5 linked regions of the Homo sapiens genome follow. The protein of the gene in region 3 interacts with the protein of the main gene of each other region in a pairwise test. Each region holds a gene or a part of one and is shown on either strand. Other genes may lie near its edges. The genes, in order: MLH3, TLR2, TMOD1, DCC and FBXL17.

Region 1 (4,449 bases), on a different chromosome or scaffold from region 3:
TAATATATTTACAAACTATTATTGTTTCATTAGAGCAGGTCACCAAGAGATTCTGTGTAAATATTGACAAACCTAGCAGAGTTCATTATATACACTTTCTATTATTATAAAGGGAAAACATGAAAATATTATTAAAAAGTCAAACAATAGAAAATATTTAAAAGAATAAAAGATGGGCTGGGCGTGGTGGCTTACACCTGTAATCCCAGCTGTTAGGGAGGCAGAGGTGGAAGGATAGCTTAAGCCCAGGAGTTCGAGACCTACCTGGGCAATATAGCGAGACCCCGTTCTCCACAAAAAGGAAAAAAAAAAGACAAAAAGAGTAAAAGTTGAAATATCTCCTTTGCACACCCTCATTTTCACTCCCAAAGTAAATACTCTTGATAGTTTAATGTGCATCCTGAGTATATGTATGTGTATGAACATAAAACTAAATGTCTGTCGCCCAGGCTGGAGTGTAATAGCGCAATCTCGGCTCACTACATCCTCTGCCTCCCAAGTTCAAGCGATTCTTGTGCCTTAGCCTCCTGAGTAGCTGGGACTACAGGTGCACACCACCATGCCCAGCTAATTTTTGTATTTTTAGTAGAGACGGGGTTTTGCCATGTTGCTCAGGCTGGTCCTGAACTCCTGGCCTCAAGCCATCCACCTGCCTCACCTCCCAAAGTGTTGGGATTACAGGTGTGAGCCACCGCACCCAGCCTTCATAATATTCTTAGTTTTAGATTGGCTTTCCCTAATCCATCCAAATCATTGAAACTATATTATATACCAAAAATAATCATTAAAAAAAGGTTACAAGAAGACCAGCTGGTTAATCATTCAGGCTAAACTCCATTCTTACCTGCCTCGCCATTCTCTTCAGTCTTAGTGCTCATCAAACAGGCAATAAACTTGTTATCTACTTGCTGGAGAACCTGTCAGACATTCAAATAAGTGGTACAACACTAAATAAAAATTAACAAAGGCTTATTTGCATAGAAAGATACAGAACTGTATTTTATTTAGAGTTGTTTGCCTTATCACACTCCTTTCTTTGAGACTGGGTAAGGTTCTGATGAACCAGAAAAAGTCACTAGGAAGGATGAAAGAATGGGCAGGTGGAGTTGATCAGAAGATGTAAGGGGAGGGAGGCGACAGGGGAAGACAGACTCCCACGTCTCAGAGTGGTGTGCTAGCAATACTTTAGAGAAGGCCTGAGATGTTCCCAACAGAGTGACTCTTGAGAATAGGTAATGTGACCAGAGATTGCTAACATACAGGCTGAAATAAATTTTTAAAATTTATATGAAAGCAAGGAAAACGATTATGGAGAAACTAGTCTATTTTTATTTTTATTTATTTTTAATTTTTTTTTTTTTGAGACGGAGTCTCACTTTGTCACCCAGGCTGGAGTGCAATGGTGTGATCTCGGCTCACTGCAAGCTCTGCCTCCTGGGTTCATGCCATTCTCCTGCCTCCATGCCATTCTCCTGCCTCAGCCTCCCGAGTAGCTGGGAGTACAGGTGCCCGCCACCACGCCCAGCTAATTTTTTGTATTTTTAGTAGAGACGGGGTTTCACCGTGTTAGCCAGGATGGTCTCGAACTCCTGACCTCATGATCCACCCACCTCGGCCTCCCAAAGTGCTGGGATTACAGGCGTGAGCCAGCGCGCCCGGCTGCTAGTCTATTAAAGAAGTAAGTTAAAAGCCACTGGTGGCTTTAGACCTTGGTGGTTCCTCTCTGTCTAGGTACTTGAGGCTCTCCAATACCCCCGAGCCTATACCACTGCCCCAGGGTCTATTTCTGGATCAACTGCTTGCCTGCTCTGGTACCAGGTCAATGCCAGGTTAGGAGTTTACCCAAATTTGTTAGCCTCCTAATTTGTTTCCGTACTGAAAACAAAGGGAATAAGACAGCCATGGTGGTAAACACAAGGCAAAATAGAAAAGCAGATCAGACAAAGGGTCCCTTTTGTGAAATGACTTCTCAATATGGGCTTTCCCAAACCTGTGTAGGCTCACACAATAGAAGGTAATTTCTAAAAGGGCACTGTTGCACACTTAAGGACAAGGTCACTAAAGGACTTTGATTTATAAATTATTGCCAAATATAAAGTCAATATATAATCTTCTGCAGGAGAACCTTGAGAATCCTTGAAACTGTCAGCCTGAATCCATAATTCATTCCCTCCAAACCTACTTACACTACTAAAGATATTTCTTTCTTTGTAATTATAATTAATCCCTTGCTTTTTCTTCTGATGATAAAAGTTCTAGTAAGAACACACACACACACACACACACACACACGTGCCTTGACCAAGGTGGTCTATATCATTAAATAAATCAAATTTTAGAAGAGTTAGGCCATATATATATATATATATATATATATATATATATATTTATGAGATTTTGAAGTTAATCTTTTACCTGCATTGAATGAATCATTCCTTTGGTGAAACGATAGGGATACAAGATGTTGTGAATTTTAACTGCTAAGCTCTCAGCCTGGCCACTGCTTACATCAACAGCAACCTAGAAAGACTCAGCAAAATATAATTGAAATTTTAATTTTTGTGTCAGAATTGTTTTACCAAAGATATCAGAGTGCTTTAAAAGCATTCATTTTTATTTAGCCTACTAGAGGTGGGTTTAATTCAGGGAATTTATAGAAATTCAAAAGAATCGGCCGGGCGTGGTGGCTCACACCTGTAATCTCAGCACTTTGGGAGGCTGAGGCGGGCAGATCACGAGGTCAGGAGATCGAGACCATCCTGGCTAACATGGTGAAACCCCATCTCTACTAAAAAATACAAAAAATTAGCTGGGCGTGGCGGCAGGCGCCTTTAGTCCCAGCTACTTGGGAGACTGAGGCAGGAGAATGGTGTGAACCCGGGAGGCGGAGCTTGCAGTGAGCTGAGATCACGCCACTGCACTTCAGCCTGGGCGACACAGCAAGACTCTGTCACAAAAAAAAAAAAAAAAAAAAAAAAAAAAAAAAAAATTCAAAAGAATTTATGAATAATGAGTCTTACATAAAAATTTTTGCTTATAAACAAAATTACTGACAAAACAAAAAAAATTGTTTCACAACAACAATTTGTCTATGTTCCATGATCAAGTCCTCAAATGATATCTTGAGGAAAGAACTGGTAAACAAATGCTCATCTATTATACACCCTGTTTATAACATGCACAGTACATTCTGTGAAAATACACTGAGGAGAGAACATCCATGCGGGGCCAATGAGGAACTGTTCCTCCAGTAGAAGATGTGTGGCTTTATCTAATGATAACAATTTCATTATCACCACCCTGAATACTGTGCCAAAGCTACAAGTCAGGGTTTCTGAGAGTGGTAAACACATTCACTGTTCTCACATTGATTATACATGTTTAATCCAAAATGCCTGAGTTCCCAAATGCTATAAATTTTATTTCTCCCCTCTACATTAAACAGTAATTTCCAAATACATAATTTGGAAATATGCCCAGTTTCCAATCATAATTACAAATTAATATAGTCTTGCATGCCCATACCCAGCTTAAATAAAATTCAAATTTTATTTTTAACTAATTTACTTATTTTTTAAGAGATGGAGTCTCACTGTGTTGCCCAGGCTATAGTGTGCAGTGGCTAGTCACAGGTGCAATCAGCACACTATATAGCCTTGAACTTCTGGCCTCAAGTGATCCTCCCACCTCAGCCTCCTGAGTAGCTGAGACTATAAGTGCATGCCACTGTACCCATCTTGAAACTCAAAGTTTAAAATAACAGGCAAAGAAAGGCTGGGCGTGATGGCTCACACCTGTAATCCCAGGACTTTGGGAGGCTGAGGCGGGCAGATCACCTGAGGTTGGGAGTTAGAGACCAGCCTGACCAATATGGAGAAACCCCATCTCTACTAAAAATACAAAATTCGCTGGGCGTGGTGGCAGGTGCCTGTAATCCCAGCTGCTCGAGAGACTGAGGCAGGAGAATTGCTTGAACCTGGGAAGCGAAGGTTACGTGAGCCGAGATCATGCCATTGCATTTCAGTCTGGGCAACAGGAGCAAAACTCCATCTCAAAATTTAAAAAATAAGAAGAAGAAGAAGAAAAAAAAAAGGCAAAGAAAAACTGCTACAGACCCACCTCTGGATAACGGGCAAATACTGGATTGTCCCATTCTGAGAACAAAGACTGAAGCGATTCGCTACTAACAGTATCATCCACAGTATCTAGGGCAAAAGGGAACAGGTAAAGTTGGCATCCAGAACCACAGGGAAAGGAGGGAATGGCATTTCCTGTTTGGTGAGCCATAGCCTCAAGACCAAAGGTCACGTACATTGTTTCTATGTTCTACAAATGTTCAGTGTTTGCTGTATCTCTAAATTATTTTGATCTGTTACTTTTTAAACTAGAGTTGGTGACTGTATCTTCTGGCATTACAGCTTTTCTCCAAACTGTTAAAAGAGATATTGT
Region 2 (3,690 bases), on a different chromosome or scaffold from region 3:
CTAGTATCCATAACAGAAAAATATCCACTTACAAGCCATAATATATAAGGGAATGAAATATCTTCTTGGAAAATAATAATAATAGCTAACATCTACTACAGACATCACCCTCACCCCACACACGAACCCATAGTGCCCATTCTCTTAGGCGTGGTACTCTTGCCCTCAACACCCCTCCAGAGAAAATGGGAATCAAGGAGCTTAGGCTCATGGTTTACTTACATTCCTACATTTCATACTCTCAGTATCTTAGGATATAGAGATCATCATCCCTATTTTAAAGACAGAAAAACTTTTTGGGTCATGTCAACTGACTTGCCAAAGATTACACATCTACTAACCCAGGTCTTTCTGACTCTAGTGCCCAATTAACCACATACACCCAGTTCTGGTTGAGAATTGAGCAGGGGTCAAAGGCTCACTTCCTTTCACATGGTTCCCAGCTTAAGAAAGTTACATAGAATCAGCAAATAGTGCTTACCAAAGAAAGTTGCATCAAAATTTAATGTGTGGTATTATTATACCTAGATTGCAAAATTAACATATGGTAGTAGTATCTACCTTTAAATTACTGTGTATCAAACTATTTTTGAGTCATTATGAGGAAACTCTAGGTATATATTTGCTTAAAAATCTATTTAGCTCACATGTACTTTTTAAAATATTCAGAAGGGGAAAAAGGGCAGGCTTTTTTAGAATTAAAAACAAGACTTTTCGAAGAAGGAAAAAGCAACAAGATGCAGGAGATATAGGCTAAAAAACAGGAACTGAGAGTCAGAGTGATTGGACAATAACTAGAACTCAAAAGGTAGTTAGAGGCTGAGGAAGACCAGAGTCCGGATGTGGGAAGTGTCTTTCAAATTCTCCTAAACTGAGTATTTATTTTGTTAAATTACAGAAATACATAATTTACTGTACCTTGCACTGTGTACTCACTCTCTCAAGTAACTATGGCTGGAGAAACCTATCTAATAGCCAGAAAGACAGATCCAGATCACATGAAAATACACCCTCTAGTATTTCTCATCCTGTAAAGTTTAATAGGAAATACACAGCACTTTTTTCTAGGAATAGCAACAAGTTTTGGGGAGTGCCCCAAATACTTTGCCTTGTTGCTCTTGAGATCAGCTGCACAGAGAAGTGACAGCTAGGTAGGACAGAGAATGCCTTTTGTGGCCACAGAGGAGTCTCTTAGCAGGAAGAAAGAATGACACAGTCATTGAGAATCTTAAGTTCATTTGTGCTGTTTCCTAATGAACTAAGCCAGTTGCTACAGATTACAGTTGGCCCTCTATATCCATGGGTTCTGCATCCATGAAGTCAACCAACTGTGGATCAAAAGTATGTTTTAAAAATTTTGAAAATAAAAAATAACAATAATAATATAAATAAAAAGACAGTACAACTATTTACATAGTATTTACATTGTATTGGGTATCATAAGTAATCTAGAGATGATTTAAAGTATACAGGAGAATGTACACAGGTTATATGCAAATACTATGCCACTCTTATAAGGGACTTGATCATCTATGAATTTTGATATCCACGAGGATCCTGCAACCAATTCCCTTGGATACCAAGGGACTATATTCAGATATCAGTAATAGACTTATGATCATGGTTATCTCATAGAAAAAAGAAAAACCAAAAACCAATTTTTAAATCTGGCATATGTTTATAAAACAGCACCCCAGACAAAATTTGAAGTTTTGTAGTTTTAGTAAGCAAGTCCTCAAATGACGGTACATCCACGTAGTTTTTATATAATTATGTCTGAATGAACTTAACTATAACTAGTGACATAAAGATCCCAACTAGACAAAGACTGGTCTTAAATATGGGAACCTAGGACTTTATCGCAGCTCTCAGATTTACCCAAAATCCTTCCCGCTGAGCCTCGTCCATGGGCCACTCCAGGTAGGTCTTGGTGTTCATTATCTTCCGCAGCTTGCAGAAGCGCTGGGGAATGGCTTTTTTCTCAATGGGCTCCAGAAGAATGAGAATGGCAGCATCATTGTTCTCATCAAAAAGACGGAAATGGGAGAAGTCCAGTTCATACTTGCACCACTCACTCTTCACAAAGTTTTCAGAAAGCACAAAGACAGTTTTGTGGCTCTTTTCAATGGAGTCAATGATATTGTCAATGATCCACTTGCCAGGAATGAAGTCCCGCTTATGAAGACACAACTTGAAGGGGGGATTGAAGTTCTCCAGCTCCTGGACCATAAGGTTCTCCACCCAGTAGGCATCCCGCTCACTGTAAGAAACAAATGCATCATAGCAGATGTTCCTGCTGGGAGCTTTCCTGGGCTTCCTTTTGGCCTGGAGCCAGGCCCACATCATTTTCATATACCACAGGCCATGGAAACGGTGGCACAGGACCCCCGTGAGCAGGATCAGCAGGAACAGAGCACAGCACATGCCAGACACCAGTGCTGTCCTGTGACATTCCGACACCGAGAGGCGGACATCCTGAACCTGCTGGCCACGCACATGGGATGGAGAGTCACACAGGTAATTTGCTGGCCAATCAATCAAGACTTTGGCCAGTGCTTGCTGCTCCTGAGTGAAGGAGAGGAATTCACAGGAGCAAATGAAGTTATTGCCACCAGCTTCCAAAGTCTTCAGTGTGTGAAATGAGTCAAGTTGCTCCTTAGAAAACGTAGTTATTGCATTCCTACTGATTTTCAATACTAGTAACATGGGTAAGAGGGAGGCATCTGGTAGAGTCATCAACTTATTTCTGGAAATATAAAGTTCTTTGAGTTGCGGCAAATTCAAAGAAAATAAATTGAGATTGTTGTTGCTAACATCTAAAATTTCCAGTGTCTTGGGAATGCAGCCTGTTACACTGTGTATTCGTGTGCTGGATAAGTTCAAATATTTCATCTTTTCTGGCCACTGACAAGTTTCAGGCATAGAATGAAAACTATTCTTACTGATATCAATGTTAGTCAAGTTTTTCAGAGTGAGCAAAGTCTCTCCGGTTTTTTCCAATGATGCCAAATGATTTTGCCTTAAAATTAAAGTTTGTAGAGAGGGCCAGGCATCCTCACAGGCTGAATTTTTCAAGTATTCTTCAACCATCAAATTTTCACTGAGATCCAAGTATTCTAATGATTTTAAATGTTGTGAAAGTAAACAAGGAACCAGAAAAACTTTACTGTTTTCTACTGTGATTCTTTTAACTCTTTCTGTAAGTGAATATAAAGTGCTCAGATCATAAAATAAGTAAAACCTTGGAATATGCAGCCTCCGGATTGTTAACGTTTCCACTTTACCTGGATCTATAACTCTGTCATTATCAGATGCTCTAAAATTACCAACTCCATTAAGGGTACAGTCATCAAACTCTAATTCTAACAATCCAGAAATCTGATTCAAAAGTTTCATAACCTGAAACAAACTTTCATCGGTGATTTTCACATTTCTAAATGTAAACTTTTTAATCAATGAATTTGTTTCACCAGTGGATAGTTCTGAAAAATGGAAAGTGTCCAAATCAGTATCTCGCAGTTCCAAACATTCCACGGAACTTGTAACATCTACAAAAATCTCCAGCAGTAAAATATGCTGCTTCATATGAAGGATCAGATGACTTACATTCTGAATTGACTTCAAACTTTTTGGCTCATAGCTCTGTAGATCTGAAGCATCAATCTCAAGTTCCTCAAGGAAGGTAAGTCC
Region 3 (4,449 bases):
CGAATTAATATCCAGTGGTCCCAACACCATTCCTTGCAAGATTTATCCTTTCCCCACTAGTTTGGGGCCTGCCTTTATCATCCACATGGATCTGTTTCTAGGTGCCTCCTCTGTTTCATGAGCCCTTTTGTCCTTTCCTGTGCCAATATTGCATTGCCTTAATTACTCCACTGCATTGTTCCAAAGCTGGCATTTTGGCCCCAAACAGAAATGAGGCTGCCAAAAAAAATAATTATTCCTCCCTCTGGAAGATTGATGCATTTCTTTCCCATCCGGGCTTCATCTTAGCCTCCCAAGAGTCCACTGAGGTCATGAGCCCCGGGAAAATGACTAGCCCTGCCTTACAGATGTAGACCCAAGGTTCAGAGAGTTTAAGTAATTCACCCAGTTCTTGCAGGACGTCAAAGGCAGAGTCCAAGTAGAACCCCAGCCTCCTGGCTCCCTTGCGGGGCTTCTTCTGAGTGGTGCCCCCTACCCCCACCCAGCCCCTGTGATGTGCAGCCCTCACGTGCCCCAACCCTGCACATGCTCCCTTCCACAGTATCTTTGTGTTGGCAGAAAGTGAGCCCCTTGTTTCTGTGAGCCACCTCCCTTTCATCGGTCACTCTAGGCGTGATTAAACCCACACAATACAAGCCTGTGCCCGACGAAGAACCAAATTCAACAGACGTAGAGGAAACGCTGGAACGGATAAAGAACAACGACCCAAAACTTGAAGAAGTTAACCTCAATAATATCCGGGTAAGGTCCATTTATTTCACTTTACCTGTGTGTGGCTGGGGGAGGGGGAACCATGTCACCCAAATGCAAACGGTCCAGGGTTGGTTGTGCAGAGTAAACAGGGTCCTGTTTGGATTCTGGGTGTTTCTGCATTGGGAATAGGGACAAAACCTTTGCAAATGGGAGCCTTTAAGAGGGGTGGGCAGTGTAAACAAGTGCATCTGGCAGTCCTGGTTTCTTTCTGAGGATGATATCAGGCCCAGATGTTTAGCACGGGCCAACCCAGCTTTGATCTGGAAACCTGCCACGTTATTCAAAACACTGAGAGATTCTCCGAGATAAAATCATGAGTCAGACACACGCTGCTGCATGGGATCTCAAGGCTGGAAAAGTCCGGTGCCCACTAGGCTCGGGGGTAACACAGGCCCTGGGCAGGCCCCTCCCCTGTGCCATCGCTGCTGCTATATCACGTTCATATTCAGCCTTGTTTTACAGCCACAGAAGGGAGCTGTTGGCCAAAATGTCCAAAGCGATATCCCAAGCTGTCTGCCCTTTTCTCTGTGCACATTTCCTTATGTGATCCCGGGGCAGGGGAGGGACAGGTGGACAGGCAGTCTCACCCTGAACAGGCCGCCGCAGGAAGAATTCAGAGACAAATGCAGCTTTCTACCCACCTGCTGAGCCCAGAGACCAGTGGATTAGTTCTGGGAGGGGGGTGGGGGTAAGACTAGAAGCCAGCCCCCCATGCCCCTGCTCCACTTTCTTTCCTTCTCCACTTTATTTTAAGCAGCTGCCAGCCCCACGGCACCATCAGATTGGAAACCTGCACCCTAGTGTTCACCCCCACCTGGCCTCCCCATGCTCTGCTCCCATGGGAGCTAAAGTGACGCTCTGAGAGATTGGTAAAAACACAGCCATGTTTTCTTTCATGTGCCCAGTAGGAGACATTGGCACAATTCAGAATGCTGCCCACTGGCAGTGAATGCTGCCTCAGGGCCACATGAGGGATGGAATCTCCCTGTGAGGCCCCAGCCTCCTCTGGGCCTCAGTTTCTCCTCTGCACTGTGAGCCTGTTGGACCAGATCAGTGGTTTTCACCTGAGAAGATTAAAAAATATATACCAACGCCCAGGCCTGACCCTAGAGATTCTGATTCTATTGTTCTGGGCCGGCCCAAGCATCACCATTTTGTAAAAGTTCCCCAGGAGTCTCTGATGTGCCGCTGGAGCAGAGACCCCCTGGGGTAGATGTCTCTTAAAGAGTATCATATGCAACCCCCTTACCTGTTTTCCAGAAACAGGGCCAGAGAGGGCAGGAGGCTTCCACAGAGACACCTAGCAAGTCAGGAACATTGCCGATCATTGGGACCAAGGCCAGGTTCCAGCCCCTCTCACACCCCTAGTCCTAGCTCTTTGCACAATACTACACGCCTTAATTTTTGCCTCTTCTCTGGCCCCCAAGTGCACAAAGAAAGAGGTTACAGGTCTTATCTGAAATTTTCAGGGAGGATTTTCTAAATCTGTTTACCAGAAAGTTCTCCCCAGATTTCAGTCGTCCGGGACAAAGCCTAAACCTTTTGCCCATTCAGCTTTTTGGCCAGAGACTTGCCAGGAATCAGAGAGTAGCCAGGCTAATCCACCTGCCTCAGCCTGTCCCAGAGGAGGCTTCTGGTCACTCTCTCTGTTGCCTTTCTTTGTGCAGAATATCCCCATCCCCACCCTCAAGGCATATGCAGAAGCCCTGAAAGAAAACTCATATGTGAAGAAGTTCAGCATCGTGGGGACACGGAGTAATGACCCCGTGGCGTATGTATGTACCTTTCTGTTCTGTTGCATTGTGGCTGGGGGCCTTGAAACAGAAGGGTTGAAATATGTGGCCTCAGGACTGGTTGTATCCCACTAACAAAGAGCTCTATGTGGTACAGTGGAAGGCATTGGACCAGGAGCCATGAGGGGTGTAGAGGGAACAGCCATCACCTGGCACCACCTACACGTCATCCTGGCCAATCCTCACACCCACTTCTGGTCTCAGATGTGCAGTTCTCCCCACTTTGCACTTAAAAAATCTAGGGTTCGGAGAGGTCAGGCAACTTGTTTTGTCCAGTCACACAGCAAGTGAGAGGTGGACCTGCAAGTCCAGTGCAGTCACGTGACCCCTAAATCTTCACTCGGCACATCATATTAGAACAAGAGCCTGCCCTTCCCTGTTCCTCAGTTTTTCCATCTCTAAAATCAATGGTTTTGGTTGGGCGCAGTGGCTCACACCTGCAATTCCAGCACTTTGGGAGGTCAAGACGGGTGGATCACTTGAGGTCAGAAGTTCGAGACCAGCCTGGCCAACATGGTGAAACCCCGTCTCTACTAAAAGTATAAAAATTACCTGGGCTTGGTGGTGCATGCCTGTAATCCCAGCTACTCGGGAGGCTGAAGCAGGAGAAGCACTTGAGCCCAGGAGGCGGAGGTTGTAGTGAGCCGAGATTGCACCACTATACTCCAGCTTGGGCGACAGAGCGAGGCTCCATCACAAAATAAATAAATAAATAAATAAAAATTTAAAAAAATAAAAATGATGGTTTCATCAGCAGGTCCCAATGACCAATTTTATTTTATAAGTCTCAAAAGATATTTCTGATCAAATTAAATTGTACTTACTCTGAAGTAGCCATCAACTCTTCTTTTTAAACATCCAGCACATATGTATTGAGAGTCTCTCTGTGCCCAACGCTGAATTAGGTTCTGGGAATACAATTGTGACCAGTCTCAGCTTCCACTTTCATAAAGATTCTGGTCCATTTGGCCAAGCAGACAACTAAAGGGTAACAGTACAGTGCAATTACTGCAAAGCTAGATTCCTGCAAGAAGGGCAGAAGCTAGTTTATCAGGGCTAGTAATTAACCATTTAGTAGCAATCGATTTTTTTCTGATTCTTAAAATAGGTAAGACAGTGTTCTTTCATATTTTTGAAATAATAGAAATAGCTCACAGTCTCTCATTGCTGTCAGTGGGGAACCTCTGGATTGATGACCTCTGACCTCAGATCTCCATGGTTCCTTGCCCATAGGAACACAGCTGGCAAAGCCACATGCCCTGTATGCTACTATGTCATGGGTCAGAAACCAAGCACATCCATTCTGGCCCTCAGCTCAGGTCCACAAATGTTTTTTGGGCATGGACTCTGCCAGACCAACAGCTGATATCAGCCTATGCACACCAGTATGCCCGTGTCAAACACTGAGATGCTTCTGGGCCAGTTGGTAAATCAGGCTGCCAGAGCTCTGTCAGGGCCCCCACCGCCTGCCCTAGCTTTTCTCCTGGCCCCGGTTCCTCCACTGGGACCCAGCATACAAGGAGTTAACACCTGGCAAGACAGGGCCTCCAGGACCTGCTCAGCCACCAGCATGTCCAGTTGGATCAGCCTAGCAGGTTGCCTACTGGTTGTTATTTTGATTTTTTTTATTAGATTTGATTAAGCCAGGCCAGGCCTTTCCTGGGAGCAGGAAGGTTCTGGTGGAAGACACAGAGAGGACTCTGGCTGGGTCCTTTCCCTCAGGAGGGCCAGCCAAGTCAGAGACAGACGCCATCATAGAGAAAGCTGACATGCCATCCCGGGGGCACACTGAAGTGAAGGGCACTGAGGAGGGGGCGATGATTTCAAAACAGAGGGCTTCCTGGGAGCTAGCCTCTCAGCAGGTCTCAGCAAGGCAGGGGCGACGGGGTAGGTATTCCTGGCT
Region 4 (4,449 bases), on a different chromosome or scaffold from region 3:
TTCCTCCTCCTCCTTCCTCTCTTCTTCTTATTCATTTTTGGGGATGAGAAAATAATTTTTGTAGAAATAATGTACATTTTAAAAATCTTTTAAATTTTAAGTTGACAAGTAATTATATATTTTTATGAAGTACAATGTCATGTTTTGATGTATGTATACATCGTGGAGTGATTATATCAAGCTAATTAACATATCTGTCACCACATACTTCTCTCTTTTCTGTGGTGAGAACATTTAAAATCTACTCTTTTAGCAATTTTGATATATACGTTGCTGTGCAATAGATATTAAAAGCTTATTTCTTCTCTCTCACTGAAACCTTGTGCCCTTTGACAAACATCTTTCCATTCCTTACCACGCCCCATCTTCCCAAGCCTCTGGTAACCATTCTGCTCTCTAGTTCTATGAGTCTGACTTTTTTATAATAGATTCTACCTGTAAGTGAGATCATGCAGTATTTTTCTTTCAGTGCCTGGCATGTTTCCCTTAGCATAATATCCTGTAGGTTCATCTATGTTATCACAAATAACAGGATTTACTCTTTTTAAAGGCTGAATAGTATTCCATTGTGTGTGTGTATGTATATCATATATACACACACACACATATATATATATATCTCATATTTTCTTTACCCATTCGTGATTGATTCCACATCTTGGCTGTTGTGAATAATGCTGCAATTAACATGGAGTATAGATATCTCTTATATACCCTCATTTCAATTCCTTTGGATATATACCCATAAGTAGGATTGTTGTATCATATGGTAATTCTAATTTTAGTTTTTTGAGAAAGCTACATAACCATTTTTCATAATGGCTATCTAATTTACATTTTCACCAACAACGCACATTTTTAAGAAAAAGGAAAGATGTAAAAAGATTCATGTTTATTCTGTCATGGATTTGACTGACCTTTCTCCTTAAATTATCTTAGAAAACAGTCATAGGACCTCAACTGGCTGCGTAAAGTTATGAGATTATTTTTTTAAACAAAACTGTTTCAAGTTGACTTACTACTTATATCTAAGGGAGGACTTCTCATTAACAGAAAAATATTAGAAAATATAATTTGCTAATTTTACTTTACAGCTTCATTAAATGCTAAACTTTTGCAGAGTCCATTTTTTTGTTGTGGGGCCTTAAGAAGAGTAAATTTTATTTTAATTATAGTGGCATGGCCTACAACATATACATGTCAAGTAAGAAATAAAAATTCCTTCTAGTGCTTCCAAATTTCTTAACGCTTGGTAACATGTTGGCTCAACAGCTGAGTAATAAGATGAACAGTTTTTGTTTTCACCTGGATACACTGAAGTCATGTAGACTCTGAAAAAATGGTACTGACCATTCTGGAACCCATGATATTGCTATTTCTGCCCCACTCTTCTGGTTAGAAGGCAGCTCATAATTATTTCTGTTGGCCCCTGAAATGTTAGACCTGCAAAGTGAAGAATCAGTTTTTTTACTTGTTTCTATAAAGATTTGACCAAAACCTGTCTTTTTTTTTAACTTTTATATTGACCATAAAGCAAGGCAAGCAGATTGAACTTGAAATAAATTTAAGTTATGAATGGGTAAGCAGATTTGAAGGGCTGCTTTCAACGTAATCTTTAGTTCTCAATAAAAACAATATTGAATCATAGGCTGTTTAGTCATTTGTTATGGGTTTTCTTTCCCAGGTCCTACTTAGTCTAGTCTCATCTTGGAAGACTGATCAGAATAACTCATTTTCATCAATAACAGGACAATTGGGCAGAATCACCACTCCTTCATGCACTCTCCTAGTGAGGGTCTGAGAAAGTTGAAATCTGAAAGATGTGATTTTGTCAGGTGGTGCTATAAAGAATTACATCTCATAGATATGTGGTTAATTCCCATATGTAGCTTCAAACCACTCTTCTGTAGCTTTTCTCCACTAAGAACTCTGTAGACTGAATGTTTTTTCTCCCTAAAATGTGTATATTGAAATTCTAACCCCCAATGTGATAGCACTGGGAGGTGGAGCCTTTGAGAGATAATTAGATCATGGGGTGGAGCCCTCATGAATGTGATTAGTGCCGTTATAAAAGTAACCACAGAACACCCCTGCTCCTTTCACCATGTGAGGATACAATGAGACGTCTGTAATCTGCAACCCAGAAGAGGACCCTCATCAGAAACCAATCATGCTGGCACCCTGATCTCAGATTTCCAGCCTCCAGAACTTTGAGAAATCAATGTCTGTTGTTTACAGCCTACCCAGTCCAGATACTTTGTGATAGCCACCCAAACTGATGAAGGCAGAGTTTTCCATAGTCAGTTAAGCCAGATTTTACCTAGAGGTAGACTGGCTAGCCATTCTGCTTTTCTTTGGACTGACTTGGCTTTTGCACTTGAAAGTCCCATATCCTGGGAAGCCACCTCAGTGCCAGGTAAAACCAGGACAGTGGGTCACTCTACCTCAAAGTGTCCCTGGTCTGCTTTAGCAATGACAGACTGAGGTGCAGATGCAGAAAACCCCCTCTACTCAGGAGACAGGCCAGGTGACATCCTGATGGTGAAAATCAAGGCTATAAAGTAACTGGAACCTTGGAGTGATGAGTGTCTGAAATTTGATTGATGAGTATAAAGTGTAGAGAGAACTGAATGTTAATGTTAATTATGATTGATTAGGAGAAACAAGTGGAATAAATCCTTCAGATTTGGTAAAAGCAGCTTTCTCAGAATGCTCCAAATGAAGTGGAAAGGGGACAATTTGACTTTCAGTCACTAGAGAATTTCTGGCCTCATAGATCCCACCCATCAGTTGTCCACAAGGCCAGAGGAGGTCTGCTGATTTGAATGAAGCAGGCTGATATTTTGATGCCTTATTATGAAAGGCAGCTGCCTATGCACTGTTAATGAAAATGGCCTGTTACATTGCAGTTTCAGTCTTCATGCAATCTACATTCACATTTACATGTGCTGTCTTTCAGTAGTGAAATGAAGAAGAGTTCCTTCGCTGTGAGATATTAAAATACAGTGGCTTGGACTTTAGTATTCTGTACAAGGATAGGCACACGGATTCAGTCACTGAGTTAAAATCTCATATTAGATTGTATCATTTCAAGGCAATAAGGCTGTTCACAGCATTTTAAACACTTACCATGCTGTTTGGCAACACAGAATACATCAATGTTATGTCTGCTGAGGTTAAGATTGCCAAACCACTAGAATTCACAAGGGGCATATATCTTCCCAGTAATAAAGACCATGGACCTGATTTAATCTCAGTTTTAAAGCATTAGCACTCAATAAACCAGTCACCACTAAATGGTAACAGTAGGCTTTGCTTGGGTAAAACAACAACAACAAAAAAATGTTTTGTACTCTCAGGTGCTGTATAGAGCCCATATTAAATAATGTCCCTCTTCCATTTTTGCTTTCTCAAAGTGTCTTTTGATAAAAAGAAGTGTAGCAAATGAAATCTGTCTTTAATCAGTCAGCACATTTTACACAATGATCTTGCCATGCACCATTCATCCTATTTTCTAGGAGCTTCTCAAGTGCTCTTAAAGGCTTGAGTGCACACTTGGCTGGAGAGGGAAGGAAAGTAGGAAAGATAAACGAAGAACTATCATTCCATCCAACATTTTCTTAAAAGTTGCAAAGTAACAGGCTACTGACTCTCAGTATTTCTAGTCATTTTGAGTTCTATCAGTAAAGAATACCTGGGCTATTAAGCCTCCATTTGAAAGCAACTTCATCATACTGGCTGAAATTTGGGAATTTTATTTTTATCCAATTAGCTCTAATCTAAAATGCTGCAGTGTTTCTGTGCCATGTATACTTCTATTTAGTCCTCTAGATTGAGAACAGCTGAAGAAGGGAAGCAGCGCTGAACTTATCTATGAAGCTTTCCTACCATCCCCTCTACTGTGTATCTAGCAAAGTATGTCATGTTAATAGTAGACATTTGCCTTACCAATGAAGACCTGGGGCTTTATGCCATATAAAGAGAGCTTTCCGCTGTTGCCATCCTCCTCTCTACCTCTCCTTCTTTGTCTCCCTTCTACTCCTCCTCCTTCTTCACTGGATTTCAGCAGATCAAACTCACCCATATATGTGCATACATAAACATACTCTTAACAAACTGAGTTGGAATAATTTGCTTTATATCTCAATAGCCTACAAATTAATTAACTATTGAAAACTTTGTGATTAGAAAATTGACTGTTTGGGAATATTCAAGTGCCACTTAAAAAGGAAAAAGCATGAGCATTTCTTCATTCCTTCCCTAACCCTTACCGTGAAAATGAACTTGCATCTGGCCAAGCACATCTTCCCTACTCTAAACGTTGCCAGCTATCTGAGCCTCTGGAGTATTTTCTGTTCAGCAGACATAATAATAACCTACCTCCCAAGGCTGTGGTAATTTTCAAACAACATCTAGGATGTAAAGCTCTAGTGCAGAGTAGATTCTTAT
Region 5 (4,449 bases), on a different chromosome or scaffold from region 3:
CCAAATATTCTCTTCTGTGAGCTGTAGGAGTAAACATTTGTTAACATGAGTACTTAACTCTAAATTATCCATCTAGTCAACACATTTTGGGAACTATCATTCACCTTTATTGTCACAGAAATCAACTTATGCTATCTTAGAATGAGGAAATTATCAGAAAACCATTTCTCTTTTCTTTTTGATATTTGTGGCACTGTTTTCAGGGTTTTGATTCACAAACCAGTGCACCATAAACTGGTGCTGGGGTATTGAAATTTGTTTTCTGGGCTCCTTAAATATAAAGGTGGGCACATTTATCAAAGTCGGTAGAAAAGAGCCACATTCACCACTTGGTCGCTGTGATGGGGTGATGGGTTATGGGACTTTGCAGTGATTAGTAGTGCACATCATAGATTATGGGATAAGTGTCTGCACTTTAGTGGTGGTACAATGCTAAACAGCCGAGAAGACTACAGATACTCTCATAGTTTACAGACGACAGGCTTCATTTTGTATGTTAATAGAAGGAAGACTTCTGATAGGATGAGGAAATTCACCATAACAAATGCATTCTGTTTACTGCACTCTAGCATGGCACCAATTAAAATCAGCAGTATGTATGATGTACTCTTAATTCCTAACAGTCCCAAGAAGCGCTAATGTGAAAAATATTTTATACTTTTACATTTTACAGGTCATGAACAGATGGAAAAAATTATGCCAATTGGTAAAGACATTCACTTGCAGTATAACACTCCTCAAAATGGTGTTTACGTGGGTTCTTCTTTAAAAAAAAATTAAAGTTATCTTGGGTAAAATTAAGTTAGTACTTGGGTTTTTTTAAATGTTGTATCTGTAATACATTTTAATTTATTCCTTCTGCAGAGCTGAATGTTTGAAAGTACAGGTAACCTTGTAATGAATAAAACTGATAAAAGGTTGTGTTCAATGAAAGGGAAATTATGGAATGATTATTCACTTTGCAAATGGGTTTGTCATAGGGAAGCTTTCCTAAAGCATTTCAAATTTAGTTTAGTTTATAAAACGTTCATTTACACACAAAATTTCAGGAACAAATTTAGTGAGGAAATGAGATGAATAGTCATAATAAGATAGAGCTCCCTTACACTGCTAACATTAATGCTTTCTCTGCGTCCCTTCTTGCAGCACTGATAGCCATTGGGCGATACAGCATGACAATAGAGACTGTGGATGTCGGATGGTGTAAAGAAATCACAGACCAAGGAGCCACCCTGATTGCACAGAGCAGCAAGTCTCTGAGATATTTGGGGCTGATGAGATGTGATAAAGTAAGAGTTGACTATCAAGTTGTTTGCTTTCTACATATCAGTATAGTTAATAGCTTGATGTCATATCCTCTCTCCTTCTCTATCTCCACCCCCGTGTATTATATATTATATATACATTTTATATGTATATATGCAATTATAGCTATGCATTGTTTGCCTGCTTTTGTAAACTAATCTGAGATTATCTTTGTATTTCCCCACTTAATAATGAATTTTGTGCTTAAGTAGAAAGAAAAAGTAATCATATACATAGTCAACTAGAGTTTGGCATCCTATTCATAAGTCCATGGACCAAAATGTAAAAGATTACATGACAAACTGCAATTTGCAGGGTCTAACCGTAAAATTGTATTCTGGGTTTCAAGTTTCCAGCAACAGTAAAGGTGGAAAGAACAGTGCCAAATTGGTTTTTCACAAGTGTGTAATTTTGGTACTGAACATCTATGTATTCTGGCCATTCGGGACCAACAAAGGGCCAGTAAGGGGGTATGTGGGAATTTGCATCTCCCCATACATCAGATGCCACTCCCAGCACATGATAAGAAGTGGTTCCAGAGGTCCTGGTGGAAGGCCTGTAGAACCAGCCAGGGATGTGAGCATGAGTTTAGGAAATGGTGTAGCATTTAACGTGGGACCCTTTGAAGACTGAGAAAACAGATAATAAAAATCTATACTGACACCTGTAATCCCAGCACATTGGGAGGCCAAGGCAGAAGGATCACTTGAGCCCAGGAATTTGAGACCAGCCTGGACAACATGGGAAAACCCTGTCTCTATCCCCCTCTCCCCCAACAAAAAAAAATTAGCCAGGCATAATGGCACACACCTGTAGTCCCAGCTACTCGGGAAGCTAAGGTGGGAGGATCACCTGAGCTCAAGAGGCCGAGGTTGCAGTGAGCCGTGATTGTGCCGCAACCACCTCAGCCTGGATGACGGAGCACGACTGTGTCCCAAACAAACAAAAAAAACCTATACTGGACACCAGGCACTCCACAGGTGTTTTCTTCTTTGTTTATTCCATGTTTTACCTATAACAAGTCTAAGAAATAGTTATTTGCATTGTGAAGGGGAGAAAATGGAGGCTCAGAAAGACCAGTCAGTGGCCCCAGGATACTCTGGCAAGACTTCATGCCGGGTCTTTGGAGTCTGTATCCAGTGCTGCTGGCACAACCCAGGGGGCAGTCTGTGGCCACGGGGACTGCTTCCCTTGGAAAAGGTCCAGTTCAGATACTTGCTCAGAAAGTGCCGCCATCTTGTACTAATTTACACATGTGTGCTACTTTTGTAAATGGTGATTAGGAACAAATCTAGCAAAATAATGTGAAACTAAATAGACACGCCATTCAAAGGGCATGCATCTTCTAAATGTAGCAAATGTGGGGGCAAATGAAGTATGGCCCAAAGCTCTTGTGTCCTTTGTGATTTTTTGTTAATTGGCTAATTCTTTTCTCCAAACACTTTAGAATCCCAACTTATACGAGACCTTTGCCAGCTAGTTATGTTTAGAGAAATGTTATTATATATTCTCAGCCCAGCCCAGAAGCGACTTACTTTGTAACTAAGCAACAGCACTGAGATCCGGGGCTTGCGAGTCTCCCACAAATCTTTCCACTAACCAACCTAATGCCGCTGCTAACCCTGCCACTTTAAAATGACTTCTTTTAAGACAAGTTAAAGGGTCCACCATAGGCATAGTCCTCTAGAAACAGGAATCAATGACAGCAGAACTCCTCAGCTTCCAGCAGAAGGAACTGCCACATGAATGCTAACTAAAGCTACCAAAATGTACACATTCATACATATGTGTCCGCAGCCATTCTCAGAAATTGTCATATTTCTAACCTGTAATCTTTAGATGGTTAAGATCAGCTCCATCTTCGGAGATACACTGTAGAAGTTGTATGTTACAGTTACTACAGGAGAATGTTATTCCAGACATATTTGCTGACCAGCATTTTGCTGATTTTTAGTTAAGAAATGGGTTATTTTCTACCCAAATGCAAATTAGTCCAAAATTAAATAGAGACAGTATTCAGATTAGCTGTATCCCTGAGGGTTTTAGCCCTTTTCCTGGGCTGCCTCTGAATCCTTTCTCTAACCAGAGAGCCACTCTGAGAACCCATTGGCTCCAGCACGACGCCGTCTGGTCAGAGCCTGCTGCAGTGCAGCCCAGGGAGATGCTGGACCCAGCCTTGCTGTCTGGCTTCCTCAGACTTAAAGCAGCTCAGAGCCAAACACGAGAGGCTCTGTGAGGATGGAAGACAGTTCCAAACCACACACAAAGCACAAGTAAAGCCTTGCACAGAAAAGCCTGCTTGTTGGTTTAGTTGGATGGAAATCTAAAGTAGCTATTCAGTTTTCAGATTTTGTATCATGCCATCCATCTCCAGATTTTAAGTTACCATCAAGATTCAAAGGAAGATATGAGTAACAAAGAAAAGAAATTAGTAGCAACGGTATGGTCTGCGGAGAGCCAGAGTTCAGGTTCAGATCTGGGCTTTGCACTTACTAGTTGTGTCACCGCGGGCAGTTACTAACCTCTCAGTGCCTGTTCCCTCGTTTGCAAAATGAGGATGATACTAGTACCTATCTTGTAGAATTGTGAGCATGTGAATGAGTTAACATACATAAAGCACTTAGAATAATGTCTATTATATATAAAATGCTCTGTTACTGATTAGTCTTATCATCCATATCATTATATTAACCTGTGTTGTGATACTGGAATTTTCCAATGAGAAAAAAAAATTATATTGCCTACTATCCCATTTTGAAAGACAATTAAAAAGAAAGGAAAAAAATAAATTCAGACTAGAGAATGCTTTGCCTTTGTGCTTTTTCCTCACCTAAATTTAAAATTAAGATTATTTTTTATACAAATATGTCAGTAATTACACTTTCTACACACTTTGCAATGGAAAAACTAATGCCTCCGTAGGACACTTAGTATTTGGTATGAATTTATTAACCATCTTACTCCAGCACAGGGATGCAGAAAGATTTGCAGTGGGAGAAAAGGGTGAGTTGAAGATAAGACTGTTCAAGTACTTAGGGTAACAGAAAGTAACAAAATAATAGTGAAAAATAAGAATAGAGACAGGAAACAGAAAAACTATGATTAGGGAACGGAGAAGAAGATACACCATCTCCTGGCAGTCTG

Evidence for each region.
Region 1: the proteins of TMOD1 (region 3) and MLH3 interact in a two-hybrid assay, tested with the Homo sapiens proteins (one large-scale study listed by BioGRID and IntAct).
Region 2: the proteins of TMOD1 (region 3) and TLR2 interact in a two-hybrid assay, tested with the Homo sapiens proteins (one large-scale study listed by BioGRID and IntAct).
Region 4: the proteins of TMOD1 (region 3) and DCC interact in a two-hybrid assay, tested with the Homo sapiens proteins (one large-scale study listed by BioGRID and IntAct).
Region 5: the proteins of TMOD1 (region 3) and FBXL17 interact in a two-hybrid assay, tested with the Homo sapiens proteins (one large-scale study listed by BioGRID).

The regions. Positions count from the first base shown.
Region 1 is NC_000014.9:75,037,496-75,041,944, forward strand, and holds part of MLH3 (DNA mismatch repair protein Mlh3), read right to left. Parts: intron 4,206-4,449; coding exon 4,120-4,205; intron 2,530-4,119; coding exon of another isoform or gene 2,521-2,529; coding exon 2,416-2,520; intron 918-2,415; coding exon 845-917; intron 1-844. UniProt on the Homo sapiens protein: Probably involved in the repair of mismatches in DNA.
Region 2 is NC_000004.12:153,703,421-153,707,110, reverse strand, and holds the end of TLR2 (toll-like receptor 2 precursor), read right to left. Parts: coding exon 1,849-3,690; 3' UTR 851-1,848; downstream 1-850. UniProt on the Homo sapiens protein: Cooperates with LY96 to mediate the innate immune response to bacterial lipoproteins and other microbial cell wall components. Cooperates with TLR1 or TLR6 to mediate the innate immune response to bacterial lipoproteins or lipopeptides.
Region 3 is NC_000009.12:97,563,428-97,567,876, forward strand, and holds part of TMOD1 (tropomodulin-1), read left to right. Parts: intron 1-610; coding exon 611-741; intron 742-2,420; coding exon 2,421-2,528; intron 2,529-4,449. UniProt on the Homo sapiens protein: Blocks the elongation and depolymerization of the actin filaments at the pointed end. The Tmod/TM complex contributes to the formation of the short actin protofilament, which in turn defines the geometry of the membrane skeleton.
Region 4 is NC_000018.10:52,752,396-52,756,844, forward strand, and holds part of DCC (netrin receptor DCC), read left to right. Parts: intron 1-4,449. UniProt on the Homo sapiens protein: Receptor for netrin required for axon guidance. Mediates axon attraction of neuronal growth cones in the developing nervous system upon ligand binding. Its association with UNC5 proteins may trigger signaling for axon repulsion.
Region 5 is NC_000005.10:107,877,877-107,882,325, reverse strand, and holds part of FBXL17 (F-box/LRR-repeat protein 17), read left to right. Parts: intron 1-1,146; coding exon 1,147-1,289; coding exon of another isoform or gene 1,290-1,463; exon of another isoform or gene 1,464-4,449. UniProt on the Homo sapiens protein: Substrate-recognition component of the SCF(FBXL17) E3 ubiquitin ligase complex, a key component of a quality control pathway required to ensure functional dimerization of BTB domain-containing proteins (dimerization quality control, DQC).